2 separate regions of the Homo sapiens genome follow, and region 2 is linked to region 1. Evidence: fine-mapped expression QTL. Tissue or cell type: whole blood. Region 1 holds a variant in brackets; the other region holds the start of a gene. All regions are shown on one strand. Distances are between the middles of the regions.

Region 1 (8,108 bases):
AGTAATAAAAGTAGGATCATTCCTACTGTATTGACTTTACAGAGATGAAAAGGTTTGTAAATAAATATCATAAATAATTGTAAGCCTAAAAATTAAATAGGTGAGATGAAATGGACAAGTTCCTAAAGAGACTCAAACTATTGAAAATAACTCAAAAATAAATAGATGCTTGAATAGACATATAATGAATGAAGAGATTGAGTTTTGGAAAACAAAAACAAAAACAAAAACAAAAAACCACAAAGAAAAGCCCAGACCCAGATGGCATCACTGCTCAATTCTACCAGACATTTAAGATTTAAAGAAGAATTAATGTCAATTCTCCAAAACTCTTCAAGAAAATAGATGAGGAAACATTTCCCACCTTGTTTTATGTTCCCTGTATTGCTCTGATATCCAAACCAGAAAAAGACATCCCAAGAAAACTATAGACCAATTTCTTATGAATATAGACGCAAAAGTTCTCAACAAAATATTAACTAAAAGAATTCAGAAACTTATAAAATAAATTATACACGTGACCAAGTGAGATTTATTCCAAGAATGCAAGATTGGTACAGTAGTGTAATACAACGTATTAATAGAATAAAAACAAAAAAACACACAATCATCTCAATTAATACAGAAAGAATATTTGACAAAATTTAACAGCATTCCATGATTTAAAAACTATCAACAATGAGAAATAGAAGAAATTTTTTTCAACCTGATGAAGGGCATCTACAAAACCTGACATTATTATATAGCTAACATTATACTTAATGATAAAAGAGTGGCAACTTTCTCCCCAAGATCAGGAACAAGAGAACGTCAACTCTTACCACTTCTATTTAATATTGTATTGGAGGTTCTAGCCAGGGCAATTAGGCAAGAAAATGAAATAAAGGACATTCAGATTGGAAAGGAAGAAGTAAAACTATTTCTATTAGTAGATAACATAGTCTTGTATGTAGAAAATCTTAAGAAATCCACCCAAAATGATTAGAACTAATGAACAAGTTCACCAAATTTGCAGGATACAAATTAGTTGTATTTTTATACACATGCAATGAATGATCCAAATGGAAACTAAGAAAACAATACTGGCTGGGTCTGGTGGCTCATGCCTGTAATCTCAGCACTTTGGGAGGCTGAGGCAGGAGGATTGCTTGAGCCCAGGAGTTCGAGACCAGCCTGGGCAACAAAGTGAGACCCTGTCTCTAAAGAAAAAAAAAAAGGAAAAGAAAACAATCCCATGCATTAAAAAGAATAAAATATTAAAATACTTAGGAACAAATTTAACAAAAGAAGTGTGGTATTTATACCCTGGAAACTATATAGATAGATAGATGGGAATCAACCCATATTCATGCATCAGAAAACTTAATATTGTTAAGATGGCAATATTCCACAAACTGGTCTACAGATTCAACACTACTCCTATCAGAAGCCCTGTGGATTTTTTTTTTTGTAGAAATTGACAAGCTGATTGTAAAATTCATGTATAATTGCAAGGAAACAAACATAGCCAGAAAAATCCTGAAAAAGAATAAAATAGGAGGACTCACACTTCCCAACCTCAAAACATACCACAAAGCAATGGTAATGAAGACTGGCAAAACAATAGATATATGGACCAATAGAATAGAATGGAGAGTCCAGAAATAGATGCATACACTTATGGTCAACTGATTTATGACAAGGGTGCCATGACCTTTCAATGGGAAGATAAGAATCTTCTCAACAAATAGTGCTGGTACAACTGGATAACTGCAGATGAAGGAATAGAGTCGGACTCTCACCTAACGCCATAAAAAAAAAAACAGCTCAAAATAGATCAAAGACCTAGATATAAGAGCTAAAATGATAAAATCGTTAGAAGAAAACATAGTATATCTTCATGACCTTGAATTTGACATAGCATTCTTATATATGGCACCAAAACCAAGGACAACAAAAGAAAAAATAAATTAATTGGACTTTATCAAAATTAAAAAATTTTATGCATTGCAGGACACTGTCAGGAAAGTGAAAGACAACTCACAGAATGGGAGAAAATATTTGCAAATCATACATCTGATAAGGAATCTGTATCTAGAATGTAAAGAACCTTTATGACTCAATGTAAAAGTAAAATAACCCGATTAGAAAATGGGCAAAGGGTCTTAATAGACTTTTCTCTAGAACCATATTCAGATGGCCAGTAAGCACATGAAAAGATGATTTACATCGTTAGTCATCAGGGAAATGCAAATTAAAACCAGAACGAGATATTACTTCACACTGACTGGGATGGCTAGAATAAAAAAGTTAAATAATGACAACAAATGTTGCTGAAGATGTAGAGAAATTGGAACCCTCATATACCACCAGTGGGAATGTAACATGGTTCCACTGCTGTGGAAAACAGTCTGGCAGTTCCTGACATAATTAAACATAGAGTTACCATATGCCCCAGCAATTCTAATCCTAGGTATATAAGAGAAAAGAAAACATATGTCCATGCAAAAACTTAAACACAAATGTGCATAGCAGCATTATTCATAATAGCCCAGAGGTGGAAATAACTCAAATGTCTATCAGTAAATGAATAAACAAAATGTGGTATATTCATACAATGGAATATTATTTCAGCCAATACAATGGAGTACTAACACCTGCTATAATTTGGATAAACCTTGAAAACATGCCAAGTGAAAGAAGCCACTTACAAAAGACCACGTCAGTTGATTCCATTCATATGAAAGCCCAGAATACAGAAATCTATGGAAACAGAAATTGGATTAGTGTTTGCTTAAGGCTGAAGAGGGAATGGGTGGATATGAGGGTGGTATCTAGAGACTGTAACCATTTGGAGTTTCTTGTTGATGTGATAAAAATGTCATAAAATTGACTGTGGTGAAGGTCGCACATATCTGTGAATATACTAAAAACCATTGAAGTGTAGACTTTAAATGAGTGAATTGTATGGTTTGTGAGTTATATCTAAATAGAGTTGTTTAAACATAAATGAAAGGGTTGATGAGAAAGGGAAGAGAAACAGATGAATAAAATATGTAAAATAATGCGGTACTAAAACCTAGGAAAATATTGGCCAGTGTGGGCTTTTCAGAGGCAGTGAGGGAAGGATGCTTCATCACTGGGTTACCTGTGACCTTTATTGAAATGCTGAAGTCACACTGAAAATGATAAATATACATGCAGATTTACCTCCTTAATATATTGAAATAGAAGAAATTCAGAAACAGAGATTATAAAGCTTTCTTATATTTATTTAAGTGTCCACAGTCTTCCCAGGGTTCCAAAGCATTTGCACATCCTGCTTAAAACTTATAGTGTCCTTGTAAGGTCCAGTGGTAATTAAGAATTATCACTGTTGTATTTAGAGAAAGAAGGCATAGAAAATTTATGATTTTACCCTGCATATATTCCTGGATATTATTTCATTTTAAAAACTTATGTTGTCCTCCAATAAAAAGTAAGCTCCATGATTCATTTATTCAACAAATGTTTATCAAAACCCTGAAGTGCTCCAAGCACTGTTCTATGTGCTTGGGGTACCTTAGAGACCAAAACACAAAATTGTATATCCTCATGGAAGATGCATTCTGTTAAGGGAAAACAGACAACAATCAATAAACATAATAAATAAATAGATTGTAATGTGTGTTTGAAAGTGGCTAGTTTTATGGAGAAAATAGACCATGAGAATATTGGCTTACTGTGTTTTTATCTGTGCCAACCCTGGTACCCAGAGGAGCACTGGTCCAGAGAAGCACAATGAATATTTGTTGAATAAATGAATGAATGAATAGATGCAGTTCAAACTGTATGTTTGGCTTCTAAAGATTTACAGTTTGTACTTTTGGATTGGTTTTCCTTAAAAAAAAATCACTGTAGCTATAGAAAGAATTTAACATCTGTCCCCCTTCCCATTCGGCTTTGCTCTCTAAGAGGAGGAGAAATGTAGTGGTTAAGCACGAAAATCTCCAGAGCCAGACTGTATGGATTCAAATGCCAGATTTACTACTTATTATTTCTGACAACTTTAATTATGTTTATATCAATTTTAAAATTACATTCATTTCATTCAACTACAATTTAAGGCTCTGTGTTTTGAAGACCTCCTTGCTACAGACACTTTCGATGTTGTGTGTTAACTTCATCTTTATAATTCCCTTGAAATCTTACATGTAATCAACATTTATTATGTGTCAGTTGTTTACAAGAAACTGTACTGGGTCTGTACTGGGTCCTAAAGGTATCATATAATGATGCGCCTGTCATAGGTGATGTTGATGGACCTTTAGGTCTGTCAATTGGAAACTTGATGCATCTAGATTCTATGCAAGATATGAACTCTTTTGTCAGCTAAGAGTGTCTCATTCACATCTAACATCCTCAGAACCTTACACAGTGATTGGTACATATATGGCACATTTTTTTATGAATAAAGAAAAAGTTATGATTTAGTAATACCACTCACATACATACACACACAGCACACATTTGCAACTGATTGGGCATCCTGTTTAGTATATATCTGGGCCTGGGTCTGAGGTTGGCCCACTTAGATCTGGACTCCCTTTCAGAGCAACAAAGTCTACATGGACTTTGTA[T/G]GTGACTTGTAGCTTGGCAGCAGCCCAGGAAACTGCTTCTCTATCTTAGACATCAGCCAGCCTTGAGGGAAGTTCAGAGAGTAACTCTCTCCTTCCTTCCTTGGATGCACTGTTGCAACCCTCCCTTGTGGGCTGGTTGTTCATTTTTGTGTTTTGGTTACATTCTCTTATTTCTTCATCTTTTTTTTTTTTTTTTGGTTCTGCTTTAAAAGTAAAACAACAGTAGGGTTTGTGAAGACATTGCAGATGGTAATTTATTAGCTGTGATATAATGGTATCAGGAAATAGCTAGCTCTTTGGCTGTTTATTTCCCTCGTGGTGGATGGAAAGAGTAAGTATAGCAATGTTTCAGTTGCTATGGATACCAAGTCTTTGAGATAATAGAATCCTTTTAACATAATCCAGTTCTATTAGATTGGCTTTTCTCTTGAATGTTACATCTACCAAGCATACTTTCTTTTCTCAGTACAAAAATTTATATCCCTTTCTCTCAATATCGGGAAGTGTTATTTTAATTTTTCCTCCAATTTTGCCCTGCAGTTTATCTTTTTCCTATGTCTCCTCTTTCCTACATCAGAAAAGATGACATGGAAAAGTAAACCATATATCTGTCTTTCCCTCTAGCTAAGCGGAAAACTGATTTAGTTTCACACAATTATATGCAAGTACTGCAACATAATTTGTCCAGGTGTGATGTTTAAATCTTTTTAACTCAAACCACAAAAATGGGGTTAATTATAAAAGGCATATAAACATCTCCTCAACATTCCATTGGTTCATTGAGTCAGATGTCTTCAAAATAGAATCTCTTTGGGATGTATAATTTTGAGTACAGCATTAAGTAAATGACTGTTGCAGAGGAAAAAAAAAGTCAAGTGTTCAAAAGAAAACTCAAAAAGTGGCAGCTCATAGTTCATGGATATAAGAAAATTCTACTCCCATGTGTGAAGTAGTCAGACTCCTTGCTAAAAACATACATTTTAAAAAGTCTAAAATGTTAGTTAAATCATAATTCATCTTTTTTTTGAGAAATCATTTTAGTAAATTTATAACAACACTAATTTTTTGAACTCTTGCTTCGGTCTCTCATTCCTAATTCTATCTTGTATTTATCTTTACAGAGGGATTCAGTTCATTATATACATTTGAAATTCTGTGCAATAAATATTTTTTTGCACTGTCATGCTAGAATCTGTCATGCTGAAGAAGAAATGGCCAGTGTATGTGTCATGAGGCTGGATTTTAGTCCCAGCTCTTCCTGTGCTTGTGTGGCCTCAAATGAGTCATTTAACCTCTTGGGTCTTAATTTCATCATCAAAAATTCGAGGTCAGACTACATTATTTTCCAGAGCCCCTTGACATCCCAAAATGTCTACATTGCTTTGAAATCTATCCACATCTCCAACTGATTTCCAGCATCAAGGTTAGAAACTGTTTTAAATAGGCTTACTGAGTTCAAAACCAAATAGAAAAGAGAAAGTCTTAGAAGTACAAGCCTGCCAGCAACCTTATTTCCATCCTGCACTGTACTGACAAGAATTTTAAATTTACAGTGGAAAACAGGAATTAGACCATATTTAGGTAGCTAGTTTCAAAACCTTTATTGTTGGTGATATTTTCTCCAGATGGAAAGTAGGTATGTAAAAGTAATCTTGGCTACAGCTAATATTTATTGTTCCTGTAGTAAATTCCAGACACTTTGCTGAGTGCTTTGTGTGGTTCAGCCCATCAAGCCTCGCAGCAACACTATGAGGCAGGTATTATAATGTTCATTTTATACATGAAAATGAACACAATAAGGAATGAAAATCTAAGTCGTTTGTCCTAAGTGGCTCAACTAGTAATTGGCAGCCCCAGGATTTAAATTCATGCTGTCTGACTCTGTCTAGAGTATATAAATACTATAATGCACAGATTTTTTTTTTTTTGGTGCATGTGTGGCTTATACAGTTGTTCCTTGAACAACACGGGTTTGAATTGTGCAGGTCCACTTATATTTTTTTCCATCAACTGCAGATTGAAAATACAGTATTCAAGGGATGTGCAACCTGTGTATACAGTGGGCTGACTTTTCCTATATGTGGGTTCTGCGGGGTCAACTGTGGGACTTGAGAATGTAGCAATGGTCCTGAAAAGAATCCCTCATGTATATCGAAGGATGATTGTATATTCTTTTTTGTTGTTGTTTTGATTTGCTTTGAGACACAGTCTCACTCTGTTTCCCAGGCCAGAGTGCAGTGTCATGATTGTAGCTCACTGTTACTTTGACCTCCTGGGTTCAAGCAGTTCTCCCACCTGAGCTTTCTGAGTAGCTGGGACTAGATGCTCATGCCACCATGCCCAGCTAATGTCTTCCTTTCAAAATTTTTTGTAGAGACAAAGTCTCCCTATGTTGCCCAGGCTGGTCTCTGACTCCTGGCCTCAAGCAATTCTCCTGTCTTGGCCTCCCAAAGTGTTGGGATTATAGGTGTGAGCCATCATGCCTGACCTATATATTCTTTATATGTTCTGACAAAAACTCATTATCTCCTTTGCATTCCCCAATCCAGTTCTTCTCTGCATGCCTGATCTCAGTGAAAGGCACTACTTGCACTAATGACACAAGACAGACACCTGGAAATTACACTTGATACCTCCCTTCCCCTCACTTCACTTACCATCCATGCAACCCATCACTAAGTCCTATCAACGACATTTATTAAATAGCTCTCAAAATGCATGTATCAAAGTCCCAGAGAAAACCTGGAATACTAAAAGAATTTTACCTAAGGGATTTTAATGAAGGGACTATGTATAGATATGTGGGAAAACCTAAGAATCTGCAAGAAATGGTGGAGCACCAGTGGACTAGCAATAGTGGATGCTGTTAGCATCTTTATGGGTTGAATTGTGTCCTCCCAAAAAAGACATATTGGAGTCCTAAGCCCCAATATCTTGGAATGTGACTTTATTTGGAGATAGATCCTTTTTACAGAGGTAATCACTTTAAAATGAGATCATAGGGTGGATACTAATCCAATATGACTGATGTCCTTATAAAAAAGGAAAATTTGGATACATAGAGATACACATACACAGGGATACTGCCATGCGAACACAAAGGCAGAGATCAGGGTGGTGCGTCTGGTATGCCAAGGAACACAAAAGATTGTCAGGAAGCCACTAGGAGAGTGGCATGGGACACATTCACCCTCACAGCTGTCAGAAGGAACCAACCTGCCAGCTCCCTCCCACAATTTTTTTTTTTTTTTTTTTTTTTAGACAGGGTCTCACTCATGGCCAGACTGGAGTGCAATGGTACAATCATAGCTCACTGCAGCCTTGAGCTCCTGCACTCAAGCCATTCTCCTGCCTCAACCTCCCAAGTAGCTGGAACTGCAGGCATGAGCCCCTGCACCCAGCCCGGATGACATCTTGATCTCAGTCTTCTTAATTCTATAATGCTAGTTTGTGGTACTTTGTTATGGCAGCTCTAGCAAACTAATACAGCATCCTTTGGCCTGAAGGTGC
Region 2 (8,108 bases), 270 kb before region 1:
TCATTACATCTCTTGGCATTCCTAGCGCTTCAGCCAAAGCACACCATTTTTTTGTTTCCTGTGTAGGCATACACCTTCCACTGCCAGGCCTGTGCTACACTGTTCCTCCCCCAAGCATGCCCTTCCTTCTCTGCCAACCCAAATGCCACCTTAATCACAGCTCAAATGCTATATCCCATGTAACCTTCCCTAATTCTTCCATCAGAAGTCACTTTGTACCCTGTGAACTCCCACAGCTCTGCAGGAATACTGCTTTTTCAGCACTTAATCATTTTTCACTATTTTTACAGTTAGTAACATATTTCCTCTTTTCTCCTTCTAGATCATGATCCACCTCTGGCCAGGATCTAAGACTTAGCATTCTTTGAACCTCCAACCCTTCTCAACATTCCCTGTCCCCTATCCAAAGGTACAGTGGATCTGAGATGCGGGAGGCAATTAACAAATGTTTGCAAATTAATTATTGTAACCCAGAGAGTTAACTTCAGATTTTACGGCTTGAAATTCTCTCAATTTTAGCAACAATTACTTCTTCTTTCTAGGATAAAAGTCCTATCTCCCCAAGGTACTACAGTTAATTCCTTTTGGCCCCAGAGGTCAATTTTCAAATATCTCTTACCCCTAAGTCTTCCGAAACAAACAAACACAATAACAACAAAACAAAACAAAACAACAACAACAAAAAACCTTAAGAGGCTCAATAATGGAAGAGAAAAGCACTGATGCTACTTTAAGTGAAGGAAAGGCATCCATGCACAAAAAATGGCTTGCTGCAGGCCACAGCAAAAGGTACCACCATTTATTAGAGCTGTCTCATTAACCTTATACCAGTCCGATCTTTAGAAAAGCCAGATATTGCATTTTTAAAACTATCAGCCTGGGCAGCATAGCGAGACTCTATCTCTGAAAAAAATAAACAAATATCTGGGTGTGGTGCCATGTGCCTATTGTCCCAGCTACTCAGGAGGCTGAGGCAGGAGGATTGCTTGAGCTAGGAGTTTGAGGCTGCAGTGAGCTATGATCACACTACTGCACTCCAGCCTGGGCGACAGAGGAAGATCCTGTCTCAAAAAGACAAATAAAAATAAAAATGATCACATTTACATTAGAAAAGAACTGATTCCTGAGTCATCGATTTTGCTGCTGTGTAATTCCTCTTTCTCTAAACAGGGTATTTACCTGGTAATTCCTCATATTATTAAACTTTCTTGTGAGACATTTACATCCCTGGTCTTACTTGCAAATATAAAGGATGATGACTTTTTTTTAAACCAAAATCTCTTAGAATGGCTTTTAAATTCCCTAAGTACTTTTCTCAGAAAGACATTTGGCATAACAAATAAGAGAGTAAAGAACTAAGATTCAAAATTCATTTTTATAAATCTATCCTTAAATCTTGGATGACAGCCAACAACCAACCTCACATTAAAATCTTAGAAGGCTTGACTTGAAGAACATGGGGAAATTTACTTTACATAGACAGCTTCAAGAGCACCTTGTCTATATATCATTAAATAAGATACATGGGAAGAAAAAAAAGCATATGTGGATAGCCCTAGTTTTATTATTTTCACAACGATATCATGCAATCTTTGCCCATAAAAGAAAGCAAAACAAAAATTTTAAAAAAGAAAAATAAATCTCTGGTGCCAACATGTTGTATATTTACTTGTGTAGCCATGACTGCTACGGGCTTTTCGAAGAGAACCGGGCAGCCAGTTTGGATTCCGACAATGCAGTAGAATTTAAGGTGTTATGACTAAAACATGTCCTAAGCAGATTAAGCTAGTCATACAACATTTTAATAAAGAAGTGTCGAGATATTAAGTGTAAAGTGCACTCATTCCTATGAATACCGCAGGAGAAACATAGGTGAGGGGGAATCACACTGCCCTGGATACACATGAATATGCCATCTCCCTGCCTACCTCTACCCAACCCTACCTACACACACCTATCTTTACCACGCAGAGACAATTAAACAGCCATAGACTCTGGATGCATTTCTGTGTCCTTGTTCCCACTGGGTGAGTTGTTGCCAGCCTGACATTTTTCCAAATTCCCTACTAGTGGGCTCTATCAGGTAGGAAAGCAGGGACTTTACTGACCTGGGACCCCATCGCTGTGGGTCTCAGGAGATTTCAGTTTCCAAATGATACACGGCACCACCTAGCTATTGTGACAGCTGGGAGAGTGGATGTCACCAGCAGTAGAAATAAAGTATCCTGTTTCCTGAGGAAAACGCCCTGGCTGTGTGATGCTGACCAAGTGGGCACCAAACATTTCTCCGTGTGATATTTTTCTTCTTTTTAAAAGACCGCCCCCCGCCCCACCGCATCTCTCTATACGTATACACCTCCAGAGTTCATTCTAAAAGAACCAACACAAAGACCATCCATCCTCTAGCCATAAGGTTTTCAGTGCTTAAATGTGGAAGGAGAAGGTCTAGCTAGCATTGAAAGTTGTGGGGACAGGAAGAGGAATCTGATCATTCAACATCCTTCTCCTTCTGGTCAGACAAGAGAAAAACAATAGAAACTGCACAGTCAGGGAGTACAAGACCCTTATGGAACAGGTGCTAAGGAGAGAAGTAGTATCACAGGATGGAAGGCCCCTTCAAAACCAGGTACATTAGCAAGCCCAGAATGTGTAACGGTTATCCTATTTCCCTGCCATGTGCCTCAAAGCAACATGCTCACTTCCACATCCCCATGTCATGAGGCCAGAGGAAGGGGAAGCGAGAATCCCTACACTGGGCCATCCACACGCAGGAGCAGAACAGACACTGTGCTCAGAGTTGCAGGGTCAAAATAACAAACACTGTCCCACAGTCTTAGCCGGTGACATCAAGTAAGGGCAGCGGCAGATCTCTGGATTTGGGGCGCAGTTTGGGGAACGTGGATGCAACCACACGCGTACACACACATATACAGGATTTTACAAACCGGCCCCTATCCCACTGCCTCCCTCCACACTTCACACACCAAGTGCATCCTGCCCACCTCACCGTTTCCATCATCACATTCTTTCTCCAGGAGAGTCAGCCGAGAGATGAGGGGGTCCTAGCGGGGATTCCTGGAAATGTCACCCCCCAACACCTCCGTCCGCCACCCCATCCCCTCTGCTGTACCTTTTACACACACACTCTCACACACTCACTCCTGCCATGACTGTCATCAGGCCCGCCTGCTGCGCCCGAAGCCCGGCATCTCAGCGGGCACCGGACCCCAGGCGTCTCGCTCGCAACGCCGCCTTCCCCCGCCTCGCTAGCTGATGGTTCCAGGCACTGCCTCCTGGATGTCGCCTGCTGCCTCCGCTCCTCCGCACTATTGTTCCAGGCAGCCCCTCTCGCGTCCGGGGGCGCCCTTTGGCGAGGACCCGGGCTCCGTCGGGGGCCGCATCAGCGCCGGGCACCCCTTCTCACCCACCCCTCCCTGGCTGTGGTACCTTGCCTGACAGCTGGGTCCGCGGGCCCGCGGGAGCAGGCGGCGCTAGTGACAGCGCTGGTGCCAAGCCTGGGAATAAAGCTCCGCTCCAGCCGCTGCTGCCTCCAGCGCCACCATCTTCTCCCGCCGCAGCTGCCGCCGCCGCCGCCGCCGCCGGGACCGCAGCCGCCCTCGCCCAGCTCCGGCTCCGCAGCCGCTGCTCGGACCCCTCCGGTCTCGCGGCCCCACCCCCTTTCCCCACCCTCCCTCCCGCCCTCCAGCTAGCTCGCTGGCCCCTCGTGACGCGCGCTGGGGCCGGGCGGGCCTGCGAGGGAGGGCGCGGGGGAGCGCGCGCGCGCACGCCGCCTGCTAGTAGCGCCCCTGCCTCCCTCGCCCACTCGCGTGCGCGCGCGGCCCGCGAGCCCGCGGCGGCGGCGGCGGCACCGCTGATGTCCTCCGTGGGCCGCCGGCTGCAGCGCCCCTGCCCCGGCGCCGGTGGGCGTGCGGCACACCCGCGCCTCTCGCCTTCCCTCGCGTCCGGGTTCCGAAGGGCCCGCCCTGCCTTTCGGAATGGGTTCCACAGCCCCATCCTCTGGCTCCCGGCCGGACGCAAGGAGGGGAAAATGCAGCTGCATCCCCGAGGGGACTGACGGGGGCCTCCACCCTCCTCGGTGGCAACCCAGGTGGTCCCCAGTTTCCTAGCCAGCAGCTGTGGCCAACCTCTGCGCGAAGCAACGGGCCACGCTGCAGGACCACGAAGCCAGGCAGCCGCGTCGACTCCTGCAGGGTGTTCTCTCCGGAGTGACTCCCGAGCTTTCCCGCTTCCCAGGCCCCTTAGATATCGCCTGCGCTTCAAATTCGGAGATTGACGGCGTCTCCGGAATGCGTCGCAGTCCTGCGAGTTCTCCGCCAGGGGGAGAGCCGCGCGGGCTTGGGCCTGAGCGAAGACAGCCGGGCTGCAGCCCTCCAGGGGAACTGCCGAGTCCCGCCGGGGACAGCGGAGAGCCTGCGGATTGTGAAGCCGAGGAAGGCTCGGCTTGGTTTTCCTACCCGCTCCTCAGTTCTGGTTGATCGGAACTTAAGTGTCTTTGAGCCTAGCACAGGCCATCCGCCCTAGATATGGCTCCTAACTCGAGAGGCCACCCTTTGCGGCAGGGACCAGGTGGCAAGTGCTGTGCATTAATGAAAAGCTGTGGGCTAGACAGGCCCCGGGAGGCCTGGGCTCTGGCGCCAGCCCCACCTGTAATTGGCAATGCAATAGCTAAATCATTCCCCCTCTTAGAAACACAGATTTTTCCATAATAATGTTATAATGCACAAAGCCTTGTAGTTTGCAAAGCCCTCTCCGCACATGTATTCTCCAGTAAAATGAAGATAAGCGCTGGTTATCCAGATCCCTTGGGAAATGGATCTTTTACCACACCGTGTTTCCATATTATTTTAAGCACGTCTCTAGAGAAGTCTGGGGGTGTAGCCTAAAGCATTCTGAAAGTCTTGTTTTAGCTTTAAAATTCATATGAATTTTGCATTGTACTTTGTAATTTTTTTTTGCTTTAATAAAACAATAGCTACCTTCTCAAAAAGATTTTAGTAAAATTTAAAATTATATACTAGGAAGATGTCTGCTTGTCCTGTGACATTACTCATATTTTTTCCGGTGAATACTTATTTGGCATATGTACGAGCCAGACATGGTCCTTTTCCACCAGAGCTCACAGTACGCTGAAGGAAATAGGTATTCAACTATCAGACTGGCCAGGCGCGGTGGCTCACGCCTGTAATCCCAGCACTTTGGGAGGCTGAGTCCAGCAGATCACTTTAGGCCAAAAGTTTGAGATCAGCCTGGTCAACATGGCGAAACCCTGTCTCTACTAAAAACACAAAAATTAGCCGGGCGTGTTGGTGCACGCCTGTAATCCTAGCTACTCGGGAAGCTGAGGCACGAGAATGCTTGAACCGGGAGGCGGAGGTTGCAGTGAGCCGAGATCGCGCTACTGCACTCCAGCCTTGGTGTCTCAAAAAACAAACAAACAAATAAAACAATCAGACTAAGTGCAACTGTGATAAATTCTCAACTGCAAAGGCGCTAAGGTGCACGGGAAAACCTAATGTGGACTCTGGGACTAGGTAAGGCTTTCTAAGGAAATGACATTTCAGATCCCCCAGGAGAGGCAGCATTGAGACACTTCCAGGTAAAGGGAAGGAAATGTGAAAAGGCCCAAGCAGGTGGGGCCGAAGTGAGATGAGACTGGAGAGGCAGGCAGACTTTGTGGACCGTTTTTAAATAATGATTTTGTCTTATGAGCCTGGAAAGTCAATGAAGGGTTGCCAAGAGTTGGGAGCAGGCAAGCAGGATCACATTTCCGTTCCTGAAAGATGGCTGAGGTGGTTTGTGAGGAACTGATTCGTGGAGGGTCAGGATCCAGGGCGGAGAGAGTCTGAGCTTATCCTACTTAGTGAGTGTTTAGGGTTTTCTGTTTTTGCACTAACTGCTCTTTTGATTGTTTTTAGTTCTTGCCTCTGCTCTCCTGTGTACGCATCTAGGAGGCTTTCAGAGTGCTTCTCTGTAATAGTTTCTGTTTTGTTACTTTTAATCCACTGCAGTTTTAGGAAGGAAATGAACCCTGTTAGAATTTCAGGTTAAATAAGAGAATATAGGTTCTGAGTGAGAGGCTCTTTTCTGTGCATACACTTATTGCCATTTGGTTTGCTATCTCAGAGATCTTTCTGCTTATTTTCTACTTTTTGTGTTGCCTTTCCAGTTAGACTAGGTTCTTAGATGCATGAATAAGGGTTACATTATTGCTTTAATAATATCCTGGAATCTTACCTCGCAGGATTTTTGTGTAAAGAAAGTTATGTGAAATTTCTCTGCAAAGTATTCAGTGCCATATAAAGAAAGGTAATAATTGTTAGTTATAATGGTAGCTTAGAGACCTCCAAAACTAATTACTTACCAAATGTTCATATGTGGAAATTTCCCTCCCTCCCCCACCCCCATGAAAAACACATATTCCTATTTCTTCTGGATAGCATGAATCATTGTCTTAAGTGCTCTTGTTACTCTGTGCCTTCGCTGGCAGGAAACTCAAAGCCAAATTTTCAGATCATTGTAGGAAATGAGTGGATCCATATGGCATGTAGATCCATGTCTTAATCCCTCCTTTGGTCTTGTTCTATTCTATTTATAGATTTCCTGTGCCTGCTTTATTGATGTTTTTCTTTTTAGTAGATCTCTTATAAGGCACTCCAATCCACCACTCCAATCCACCTTCTCCTGTTAACAGGGTCGAAACTGCTATTCAAGTGTTTCAGGAAGCAGTATATAAAATACTGGCAGCCAGGCATGGTGGCTCATGCCTGTAATCCCAGCACTTTGGGAGGCCAACGTGGGAGGATTGCTGGGGAGTTCAAGACCAGCTTGGGCAACATAGTAAGACCCCCGTCTCTCAAAAAAAAAAAAAAATTAGTGGGCATGGTGGCGAATTCCTGCAGTCCTAGCTACTTGGGAGGCTGAGATGGGAGGATTGCTTTAATCCAGGAGGTTGAGGCTGCAGTAAGCTATAATTGTGCCATAGCATTTCTGCCTGGGTGATAGAGCAAGACCATGTCACTAAAAATAAAACACTGGCAACCTGCCAACCATTGAAGCAGGTAACAATAGTATAGACACTGTGCCAAGTGACTTGGGTTTAAAGTAAAGCCTTAACCACCACTGCATGTGCACCTAAAGTCTCCGTGCATGCCAGTATAAAACCTCATATTATTGGCAAACTTAAGTATGTCTCCCAATGGCTCATAGATAATCTCCTTTAGTTTAATCTCTGAGGTCCCAAACTCCATCAGCCTACACTATACCAATACAGACGGTTCCTGTCTTATGATGGTTCGACTTAGAAGTTTTTGACCTTACTTTTGGGCTTATCAGGGTATTAATTTTTTTTTTTGTCAGTGCCTCACTCTGTTGCCCAGGCTGGAGTACAGTGGTGCAGTCTTGGGTCACTGCAACCTCTGCCTCCCGGGTTCAAGCGATTCTCCTGCCTCAGCCTCCCTAGTAGCTGGGACTATAGGCGCCCACCACCATGCCCGGCTAATTTTTGTATTTTTAGTAGAGACAGGGTTTCACCATTTTGGCCAGGCTGGTCTCAAACTCCTGACTTCAAGTGATCCACCCGCCCTGGCCTCCCAAAGTGCTGGGATTACAGGCGTGAGCCACTGTGCTTGGCCTTAAATGCATTTTTGACTTATGTAACCCCACCATAAGTCAAGGAGTATCTGTATATGTTACCGTCACAAGCACTGTTGGTCACTTGGTAAAAGGACAGAGATTCAAAAACTTTTATTCATTTAGGGTTATTTTTATCAACAAAGACTTGAAGATTCCATGATTCACTACATCCATTCAAACTCTGCAAGAGTGTGACCATATCTTCCAGCTTTTGATATGGTTCTGGATAGCTTAAATTAGACATCCTTCTTCTGACATAAGTTGATACTTTTCCTTGATTTCAAGTTCTTTAGTGATTACCCTCTTTCTGTATCAGTCCTTGAGTTTATGAGCTGAGGTTGTATGTAAGACAAGCATAGAACAACCTTCGGTAATCTGGTTTCTCTTGAGGATTTCAGTTCTGCTAATATTTAATAATCCAGCATAATTCCTAACATATTGTATAGCCTTTTTGG

What was found. PIP is the estimated chance that this variant, and not a neighbour inherited with it, causes the effect.
Region 2: APBA1 starts here. The variant in region 1 is fine-mapped to the expression of APBA1 in whole blood (TOPMed, PIP above 0.99).

What each region holds. Positions count from the first base shown.
Region 1 is chr9:69,941,112-69,949,219 of GRCh38, forward strand. No RefSeq gene overlaps it. Among named protein-coding and RNA genes, the nearest start is that of MAMDC2, 99 kb to the right of the region's middle. The variant T/G (reference allele first, on the strand shown) is at 4,599.
Region 2 is chr9:69,668,706-69,676,813 of GRCh38, forward strand. It overlaps APBA1 (amyloid beta precursor protein binding family A member 1), which reads right to left and starts at 3,666. Exons shown (of 13, transcript NM_001163.4): 1 at 3,448-3,666. RefSeq lists silencers at 3,434-3,513, 3,694-3,743.